Linked DNA regions of Homo sapiens. The protein of the gene in region 1 purifies or fractionates together with the protein of each later gene. This does not show direct contact. Each region holds a gene or a part of one and is shown in the gene's direction. Other genes may lie near its edges. The genes, in order: GBP1, STK38 and NPEPPS.

Region 1 (3,656 bases):
TCATCTGTCAATGGACACTTGGATTTCTTCCACCTTTTGTCTATTATAAATAATGCTAATAGGAACATGGGTGTCTGAATATCTGTTCAAGTCCCTGCTTTCACTTCTTTTGGGAATATACCCAGAAGGGGAATTGCTGGCTCATGCAGTCATTGCATGTTAACTTTTTTTAAGAAATCACTATACCATTTTCCACAGTGACTGTACCGTTTTACATTCTCAACAGAAATGCACAAGGGTTCTAATTTCTCTACATCCTCACCAACATTTTTTATTTTCAGTGGTTTTTTTTTTTTATAGTGGCCATACGAATGGAAGTTAAGTAGTATCTCGTTGTGGTTTTGATTTTGATTTCCGTAATGACTAGTGATGTTGAGCATCTTTTCACGTGCTTATTGGCCACTTGTATATCTTCTTTGGGAGAATGTCTATTCAAGTCCATTGTTCATTTATTAATCTGGTTGTTTATTTCTGTTGCTTTGTAAATTTTTTTATATTTTCTAGATATCAATCCCTTATCATATACATGTTTAGAAACCATTTTCTTACATTCCGTGTGTTGCCTTTTTTAACTCTGTTGATAGTGTCCGTTAATACACAAAAGTTTTAAATTTTGCTGAAGTCCCACTAATCTATTTTTTCTTTTATTGTCTATAGTTTTGGTTTCTTATTCAAAAAATAATTTCCAAATCCAATATTATAAAACTTTTACCCTTTATTTTCTTCTACAACTTTTATAGTTTCAACTCTAATGTTTGGTTCTTTGATCCATTTTGAGTTCATATTTGTAAGTTATAAGGTAATAGCCCAACTTTTTAAGGAGATATATCATTTCCTCAACATCATTTGTTAAAGAGACTCTCCTTTCTTCATTAAATGATCTTGACACCCATACTGGAAATCATTTGACCATATATATCAGAGTTTATTCATGGGCTGTCTTTTCTATTCTATTGGTTTATATGTCAGTCTTTATACCAGTACCACACATGGTTTTGTAATACGTTTCACAACTCAGAAACTGTGAGACTCCAACTTTGCTCTTCCTTTTTATTTTTATAATTAGGGGATCTCTGGAAATTTCATATGAAATTTATGGTGGATTTTTCTATTTATACAAAGTAATTGGAATGTTGGTAGGGATTATATCAAACCTGTACATCACTTTGGGTAGTAGTGACATCTTAAGAATATTAAGTCTTCCAATCCATAAACACAGGATGTCTTTCTAATAACTTATGTCATCTATAATTTCTTTAAAGGGTGTTTGAAGTTTTCACTCTACAAGTCTTCCACCTGCTTGGTTAAGCTGATTCCTAAGTAGTTTATTCTTTTGATGCTGTTAAATTGGATTGTTTCCAAAATTTCCTTTTCTATTTTTTACACTAGCAACTGATTTCTCCATATTGACTTTGCATGCTGCAACTTTGATGAATTGTTTTAATAGTTCTAATAGTTTTTTGTGGGATAGTTAATGTTTTCTACAAATTAGATACTATCATCAGCAGACAGAGATAATTTTACTTTTTCATTACCAATTAGGATGCCTCCTTTATGCTTCTCTTGTCTAATTACTCTGGATAGGACTTGCAGTGTTCTGTGGAATGCAATTGACAAAAGTAGGCATCCTTTTCTTGTTCATGATGTTATAGGAAAAGCTATGACGTTTCATCATTAAATGTGAAGTTAGCTGTGGGTTTTTAATACATGGCATTTATTATGTTGAGGTGCTGTCTTTCTATTTCTACTTTGTTGATTATTTTTATCATGAAAGCCTCCTGAATGTTTCCATGCATTGGATATTCAAATTTCCTATTTCTTTGATTGTAAGTACGTAAGGTGAATACTGATTGTTGTTTCAGTTCTCTCTCTTAACCTTAAATATACTACTTTTTCCTTCAATTGCCAGAACTGCCTGTTACTAAATCCCCATCGCTGGTCTCCTCTCTCCCTTGCAGGCTTCTCTCTGGGCTCCACGGTGCAGTCTCACACTAAAGGAATCTGGATGTGGTGTGTGCCCCACCCCAAGAAGCCAGGCCACATCCTAGTTCTGCTGGACACCGAGGGTCTGGGAGATGTAGAGAAGGTGAGACTCAAGGATCCAGTTGTGGAGTAAGCCCCTCCTCTCTGAATATTTTATGCAGCGGTTAATTGTTTATTAACTATTAACTACAGGCTGTAATATGTGTGGGTTAACACAGATGCATAAAGGGAGCACAAATAATCCCAGTGTCATAAGTCTTATCCTGCACAGAACTTTAGTTAAGAATTTGGGTGCTAAAGCCATGTGACTTTGTATTTAAATTTAAATTCTGTCACTAATTCAGTAGCCTGAGAAAATTGACTTATTTTCGCCTCAGCATTCTAATCTTTAAAATGTATGGAAAAGACCTATGTTGGCCATATAGTATTATTTTGAATATTTAATAAGATAATACATTACAGGTGTATATTAATTATTCAATAAAATAGCAACTAATAGTACCAATCTTATATGTGAATTCTGTTATTGAAAAAAAGAAGAGAAAATTTTAAATTTACATTGTACTCAGGCCTTAAAATGCCCACCAACCTTGAATTTTAATTTTACAATTATCTGTTGATGATCATTAGAAGACCTAGTAAGAATCATGGTAACCCAAAAACACTCGTCGAAAAACTACCCAAAAGCCACATCCTACTGAGAATAATTTTTGTATTTGTCTTCCTTTAATAGGTCATTAGTGTTAAAAAAAAAAAAAAAAAAGAAAAGAAAAAAAAACCCTCTAACATATGAACATAGTTTTACTACTGTTACTCTGAAAAGTGCTGCGATGATGAAACTTGCTCCTGACTCCAGTGTGTCTTGACTTCCAGGGTGACAACCAGAATGACTCCTGGATCTTCGCCCTGGCCGTCCTCCTGAGCAGCACCTTCGTGTACAATAGCATAGGAACCATCAACCAGCAGGCTATGGACCAACTGTAGTATCCTTTTGTGACCCAGAACAGCACCAAGGTCAGAGGGGACACCTGTATTCATACACCAGCTGCCTGACTGTGAATCCTGATGAATCAAGCTCAAAAGGAGAAAACAAAAAATAATGCAAGTACAGAGGAGAGATCCCATGTATCCACTTTAGAACTGACACTGACACTTAGGTTAGGAGCAAAGGAAAATGGAAGGTTTGGGTATGTGTTGAACTAACATGGGATGAGGTCCCTGTTCATTTTGTCACATTTCCTTAGTTAGCTACTCAGCTATGTGACAGAGCTGACACATAGAATCCGATCAAAATCCTCACCTGATGAGAATGAGAATGAGGTTGAGGATTCAGCTGACTTTGTGAGCTTCTTCCCAGACTTTGTGTGGACACTGAGAGATTTCTCCCTGGACTTGGAAGCAGATGGACAACCCCTCACACCAGATGAGTACCTGACATACTCCCTGAAGCTGAAGAAAGGTAACAGAGAGCTTCAACTGATAAATGAGGATGAGAAAACACAAGAAATTATCATTTTTCAGTTTACTATTGCTAGTTTTCCAGCATTTGCAGTTTTCTATGTCTTCAGCTGGCTATTCCTAGAAATTAATACTTGCTGAATATCCAAATTAATAGATGTTATTTTAAATTACATTTGTCATTGTTCTAGAACAAGTTTCTTGTTCTTTCACCT
Region 2 (3,656 bases), on another chromosome or scaffold:
TTCATCACCATTTTGGGGTAGGGCTGACAAAGTAGAGGTACAGAGGCAAAATTGTTTTTTTGTTTGCTTTTACTAAATAAACTGGGTAGGAATTAAAGCTACCCACTGAGAGTTCAGGTTATTTTTCTGCTCCACGTGGTGGAAATTTTTGCTACCTGGAAAAATTTAAAGGGTAAGACATGACATCTAACTAGCTTCTGATGTTTCTCTTCCAGTGCAAAAGGAAAACCTTCAGTTGTGATGCCAGTATACAGTTATTGATGGGACAAAAAACTGGCTTTTATTTCTGCTTTCTTAGGGCACAGGATAGCAACTAGCACCCCCCACCTTATTAAATATTTATGGAATAGGGGAAAGAGAACCTTTTTGTATAAATTGCACCTCAGACTCTTCCCTCCCTTAATCTATATTCAGCCAACTCCACTTTCAAACCATGAGGTTTCTTGCTACTGTTTCAGCCTCAAGAGAAAGGCAAGGTGTGCTCATGGTAGCTTTCCCCTTGACAAACAGGAAATGTTATGGGCACCATTGTGTCCTCCAGGGTGAGTGACAAGTGGTAATTGTAGTGCCTCTCCTTTTCTCTGGCTCCCTGCAGTAGGTAGGGAGCTTAATGGGAGCCAGGGGAGACAGGCAGATGAAGGCTGCCTTCTACTGTATTAATGTCTTGTAGTGACTGGGTCCTAGCCATGGCTGTGGGGCAGCAAGCAATGTTACTGTTTCCCAAAAGCTTTGCTTCTGTATTAAGGTCAAGTAAAGGCAGATGCTTTACTTGGTTTCATTGTGTTTCATAGCACTGTTTCTTTTCACCCTTATTGTCCATTTTTTCCCACCCCAATACCATAAGTACAGATGTAAAGATGTAGGTTTTCTGTACAGTTGCAGCTTTTAAAAAAATTCCCCAAAGAATGATTTTAGTAGATACTGAAAACTCAAATACATAAAGTCAAATGCCTCTGGGCCTCCAAGAGTTAGCATAGAAGCCTGAAGCAAGTTAGATATAAGACCAGGGGAGAGGGTGTTGAAATGGAAGAGTAATGGAAGAGTGCCTTGTCTCCCTAAAGACATGTCAATAAAACAAGCATCATATCAAACATTGTATTAAACCAAACAACAGCCATGGACTAAATTTGCCAACAGCCATGGACTAAATTTGCCAATTTGTGAACCTTGGTACATGTTTTACTTCAGAACATGTTGTAAAAAGTCAAGACCTGTAGCATATGTTAAGACCAAAACCACTATTCAGGGATTGGACTGAGTCTTAATAAATTTAGATCTGAATCAACCCAATTTAGACCTTGTGACACTTAAAAAAGAGGGGAGGGGCCAGGCATGGTGGCACACACCTATAATCCTAGCTACTTAGGAGGCTGAGGCAGGAGGATCACTTTAGACCAGGAGTTTGAGGCTTCAGTGAGCTATGATCACGCCACTGCACTCTAGCCGGAGTGACAGAGCGAGACCCCATCTTGTTTTAAAAAAAGTGTGTGTGGGGGGGATTTGATAATATGCAGTGATGTTTGATTACTGTTCTGCATTTAAAGTAAATAAGGTAAATTTGATAATAAAGCATTGCTTTAACAAAATAATTCCGGTTCTCTGAAACTTTCTACAACTTGGTCCTTTATAGGTATTTCAGTAAAAGTATAAAATTGGAAATGTCATTAATTTGAATCTACAACTTTTCATAGGTGTTCTTGTATTTCAATTCAGTAAGGATTGATTGAGCACATAGCAGTGAACTAAATGCTGTGGTATCATAGCATTCTAGAATTTGTCAGTGAGCTCACTGTTGTTGCAGATACTAGTGCAGACCCGAGGAAGAACTTGGAAGAGAGTCTCACTTTGGGGACTTATTTTTATCATAAAAGATTATTAGACAAAACTCTATGCAAAAGAGTAGTAATTTTAACTAATCAGAGATTCAGTTTATAGCAGTGTTAAAGTTGCTATTTGCATTAAAGCCATTCATTTTGCCATTTTTTAAAGCCTTTCATCACTCAAGTTTTCATCACTGAATACCTTGAAGTCAAATGTTGTCAATTTTGAGTTAGTAGGTTTGCCTAAGCAGAAATTGGATCTTTTATATCATCACGATTAAATACTCAAAACAGTATTTAAGCACAGTATTTAAATTGTTTAAGCAAATATACAATCTAATAAAGCAGAGCAAGCTTTGTCATTAATCAAATGCATATACCTCCAGGTTGGCCACATTCGTGCGGAGCGTGACATTCTAGTGGAGGCAGACAGTTTGTGGGTTGTGAAAATGTTCTATAGTTTTCAGGATAAGCTAAACCTCTACCTAATCATGGAGTTCCTGCCTGGAGGTAATTACTTGACGATGAAAGGTCATTTTTTCTTTTTGTTCTGTGGTTTCTTTCTCTCACATCACGATTAACCCTCCTTTCTACTTTTAAATGTGCTCACAAAGTTGCTTTCTATATCCTTTTTTAGGTCTATAAAGGAAGTCAGTAACCTGTCTTGTGCTGGGGTGCCTTTCTACAATCTTAGTACCATAAAAGTAACCTGTTAATTCATTTACATGATTTCAGATGGACATTTCTTTCTTTTCTTCTTCTTTTTAAAATATATAGGAATAAATTAGGGTGCTCTGCCTGCTCTCCTGTCAATGGGAATCATATATGATCAATAACCCAAGTGACAACATTGAAGCTATAACATCCTTTGCTCCAAATTTTTGTTTCTTTTTGTATAACATATTAATAAGGAGTGAATTTTTTGTTACCCATATTAGTAGCCAGAAAAAATTTCTCATTTCTGAAATTTTAAGTTTTATGTAACTCAGCATGAGCATCTCCTAAGACAGCTCCAAAGTAAACCCAGAACAGAACATGCCATCTGTTCTGAGGAAAGCAGTCTGTTTGTCAGTGAGCAGATGAACTCTGAGCAAACTCTGGTGGGAAAAAAAAAGAGAGAGAACTTTTTTCTTTTTTGTTCCTATAATTGTGGCATAATATTTTGATTTTGTGACAACCCTTAGATTTAGGGTCATCAATACTTTTTAATAAAGAAACACATTTAATAAAAAATAAACAGTTGATTAATGTTAGAAAAGAGTCTGGTAGAATGAGGAGAAACTTTTTTAACATTTAGATGCTAGTTCTTAAATAAGAGTAAGAGCCAACTTGGTTACCAGCTCCTAACGTGTCCTCAAGCCTCAACCTGTACCATCTTCCGTAGCTTCTCATGTCTCCTGGACCCTGCCCTTTGCACTTGGTGGAGCTGGCCTGCAGAGCCATAGAGCATCTGGCCTGAGCTCTCCAATCATCTGGGCAAACTTGCACAGGCGAGGCCCCATTGACTGCTCTCCTGAGCCACAGAACTAAGGCCGTATAGCTACCTTACTGGGGTAGCAGCCCAAGTGCACTGTCTCCATGTGTCTGGTGGGTCTCCAGATTGAAGGGCTGCCAGGAGTGATTAGGAAATCATATTTTTTAAGTATTGGACTGAAAAAGAGCACTTTAATAAATGGTTTAATTTTTGCCTGAGGGAAAAATAGCTACTTTTCTCCAATAATACAAAACATAATGTTCTAAATGAAATGAAACTGAAAAAGCAGCATGATGCTCTGTTAAAATCAGAGGTTTCTTTCTCTTTTCCTTGTTTTCTAACATAAGTGACTTTATGTGAGG
Region 3 (3,656 bases), on another chromosome or scaffold:
GGGAGGCTGAGGTGGGTGGATCATGAGGTCAGAAGTTTGAGACCAGCCTGGACAACATGGTGAAACCCCGTCTCTACAAAAAAATACAAAAATTAGCCGGGCGTGGTGGCACATGCCTGTAATCCCAGCTACTCGGGAAGCTGAGACAGGAGAATTGCTTGAACTCGGGAAGCGGAGGAGCGGAGGTTGCGGTGAGCTGAGATCACGCCATTGCACTCCAGCCGGGGTGACACAGCGAGACCCTGTCTTTAAAAAAAAAAAAAAAGTTGACTAATCTGAATGGAAATATTTCTAAAATACATTATCTTTTTATGCTTTGCAATTCCTCATAGTGTAGGTTTGTTTCATTGTTTTTTTTAAATACTGAACTTTATTTTGAACATCTCTCATTGACCCCAAACTATGTACTATAATTTATCAGTTTCATATCTGTTTTTTTTTTTCTTTTTTTTTTCTTTTTGAGACGGAGTTTCGCTCTGTTGCCCAGGCTGGAGTGCAGTGGCACAATCTCGGCTCACTGCAACCTCCGCCTCCCAGGTTCAGGCAGTTCTCCTGCTTCAGCCTCCCTAGTAGCTGGGATTACAGGCATGCACCACCACGCCTGGCTAATTTTGTATTTTTAGTAGAGACAGGGTTTCACCATGTTGGCCAGGCTGGTCTTGAACTCCTGACCTCAGGTGATCTGCCTGCCTCCGCCTGCCAAAGTGCTGGGATTACAAGTGTGAGCCACCGCGCCTAGCCATATCTGTTCTTTTTTTTTTTTTTTTTTTTTTTGAGACAGAGTCTCACTCTGTTGCCTAGGCCAGGCTGGAGTGTGCAGTGGTGCGATCTCGGCTCACTGCAACCTCCACTTCCCTAGTTCAAGGGATTCTTCTGCCTCAGCCTCCCTAGTAGCTAGGATTACAGGTGCATGCCACCACACCTGGCTAATTTTTGTATTTTTCTAGAGACCAGGTTTCGCCATGTTAGCTAGGCTGGTCTCAAACACCCGACCTCAGGTGATCCGCCTGCCTCTGCCTCCTAAAGTGCTGGGATTACAGGCATGAACCACCGCGCCTAGTCCATATCTGTTTTCTTTTTTTTTTTTTTTTTTTTGGAGACAGAGTCTTGCTCTGTCGCCAAGGCCGGAGTGCAGTGGCGTGATCTCAGCTCACTGCAACCTCCGCCTCCCGGGTTTAAGCGATTCTCCTGCCTCATCCTCCCAAGTAGCTGGGACTACAGGCACCTGCCATCATGCCAGGCTAATTTTTGAATTTTTAGTAGAGAAGGGGTTTCACCATATTGGCCAGGCTGGTCTCGAACTCCTGACCTTGTGATCCACCCGCCTCGGCCTCCCAAAGTGCTGGGATTACAGGCCTGAGCCACCGCACCCGGCCAGCCTGTATCTGTTCTTTAAAGTTGTTTTGTTTTCCTTACTCTCATGTTCTTCTTGCTGCTTATTGTGCCTTGTTGCTGCCTGTTGTGCAATTTCTTCCCTCTTGTATTTTACTGAACTTCATCTGAAGAAGCCTTAGTAGCCAGATAAACAAGCTTGTTTGGGCTAAAAAATCAATTGCTGTGTGAGAGTTTGTTGGATTCTCTTCTGAGTAAAGGGTATGCGTTTTATTGTACGGACTTTGTATCACCTATTTTGGCTTTTCATCTAGGCCTTTTTTTTTTTTTTTTCTTTTTTCTTTTTAGCCTCCTGGTTCTAGATACAACTGATACTCTGATACAACCTGGGTAAATGTGGTCTTGAGTAGTAAATTATCTGTGAAGCTTCTCCGAACTTTGCCACATAAATGAGCCTGCTCTTATTGTGAAGTAAATCTTACTCTAATCTGTATGTGAGTCAGTGGGAAATATCTGAGCCTTCGGATGGCTTTTGTTAACTGAGATTAGTTCTCTAGATTTTAGTGATTTCGTTTTGAACACCATACAAGTATGTGGTCCTTGGTTTATTTGGTCACTTGTAATCTCTTTAAAATTTTATTTTAAATTAGGAAATATTTTAGAAATACAAGAAAGTCACACACTATGAGATTAAACAGATGTTAACGTTTTGCCCCATTTTCATCAGACTGTGCATGCTTTTTTTGGGGGGGGAATAAAATGTCACAGATATCACTAAAGCCCATTTCCATCTCGTCCCACCCTGCCTCTAGAAGTAACTTCTTTCTTCAGGTAGGTGCGTATTATTCCTTTTTATTCCTATGTATAGTTTAAAACTTTAATTGCATATTAGTAGCCACAAACATCACATACCAATATTCTGTGCCTTTTGCATTTTTACATTAATGGTAATTATTTTTGACCTTCTGCAAGTGGCTCTTTTCAATGTTTCTTGTTAGAAAACTTGGCTCAACTTGAGTTTACTAATTATCTGCTTCTTCTTGTCTTTAGCTATTATAGAACTGTTCCACCAAGGCAACAATTATTGCTATTTTAATGGTGAAATCAGTTTTATTAGGCAAATTGACTCAGGCTTCAGACTGGCATTTGGAATTGTCACACTGGAGATTTTCTTTTACTGAAATCTCAGGACATTGACAATCAGAAAAAAACCCTCTTGAGTCTTACTATCTTACATGTAAGATATGTTCCTGAGTGACTGTAGTAAAGACTCATTCAGGAAAATGTTATCTCCGATTTCTGCCTCCCTATCTCATAGGAAACTTCCATTGTAAAGTTGTTACCAGGCGTCAAGCTGCCTCTTTGGTACAGCCCTTACTTAGTATTTGGCTCAGTTGAAGTGCAGTCTATATAGGAGGCCAAGAAGACTTAATCCTGGGTTTGAAACAAAGCAAGGATACACTAACATTCTATCCTTTAATAACATCAAGTAGAAAAATTGAAAATGAGCTTGTTATCAGTGCACTTTTATATGCCAACCTTGTTTCACTTGTGTTTTAAACTGGGAAACTGAAGATTTTAATGCTGAAATTTCTTTGAATTATTACCTGTTTTTTTGATAGTGGAACACACAGCTAATATTTACTAACATGAAGGTGTCAAAGGTGGGAAATCATGTACTACACCATCAGGTCAGCACTACTGTTTGGAAGAGCAGCATCACAATGAGCAGTGTTATACTGCGTTGTAGTCAGCACATACACTTATGTCCAAACAGATATTTTAAATTACCTTCTTGGGGTAGTACACATGTGCTGATATCCAAAGTGCCATATAATACAATACATAGTTTTTAAACTTCATATCATTCTGATCAGAAGCTTTATAAACTGTTAGGTGAATGCTGTTAGATGATATGAGAGCACAATTTAACCTGTGTGTGTGTATGTGTATGTCTTAACATCTATTAAGTGATGACTACATATGAAGCACTAAGTGCTAAAACAGAGACTTTACATAGATTATCCCATTATTGGTCAACTTTTTAAATAAGTGCATCTCTAATATAAGACAAGATGCTGACCAATTTTTAAAATGTGAATGGATTTCTATTTTTAAGATAAGTACCTTTGTTCCTTTGGTTCCTCCCTCCCACCCTTCCAGAAATGGTAGTATCCTGGAAAAAAAAAATTAGTAACAATTCAAGAAACAGCTTAATTCATTAGTATAAATAGATGAGTTTCCCTTAAACACAGGAGGAGTTGGAAGGTACTTGTAATTGGATGTTGTGCATGGTGCCTTTCCAAAATGCACAAATACTTTCT

What was found.
Region 2: the proteins of GBP1 (region 1) and STK38 fractionate together in Homo sapiens (co-fractionation; one large-scale study listed by BioGRID). This does not show direct contact.
Region 3: the proteins of GBP1 (region 1) and NPEPPS fractionate together in Homo sapiens (co-fractionation; one large-scale study listed by BioGRID). This does not show direct contact.

The regions. Positions count from the first base shown.
Region 1 is NC_000001.11:89,058,627-89,062,282, reverse strand, and holds part of GBP1 (guanylate-binding protein 1), read left to right. Parts: intron 1-1,958; coding exon 1,959-2,086; intron 2,087-2,856; coding exon 2,857-2,966; intron 2,967-3,239; coding exon 3,240-3,442; intron 3,443-3,656.
Region 2 is NC_000006.12:36,516,391-36,520,046, reverse strand, and holds part of STK38 (serine/threonine-protein kinase 38), read left to right. Parts: intron 1-2,206; coding exon 2,207-2,330; intron 2,331-3,656. UniProt on the Homo sapiens protein: Serine/threonine-protein kinase that acts as a negative regulator of MAP3K1/2 signaling. Converts MAP3K2 from its phosphorylated form to its non-phosphorylated form and inhibits autophosphorylation of MAP3K2.
Region 3 is NC_000017.11:47,537,452-47,541,107, forward strand, and holds part of NPEPPS (puromycin-sensitive aminopeptidase), read left to right. Parts: intron 1-3,656. UniProt on the Homo sapiens protein: Aminopeptidase with broad substrate specificity for several peptides. Involved in proteolytic events essential for cell growth and viability. May act as regulator of neuropeptide activity.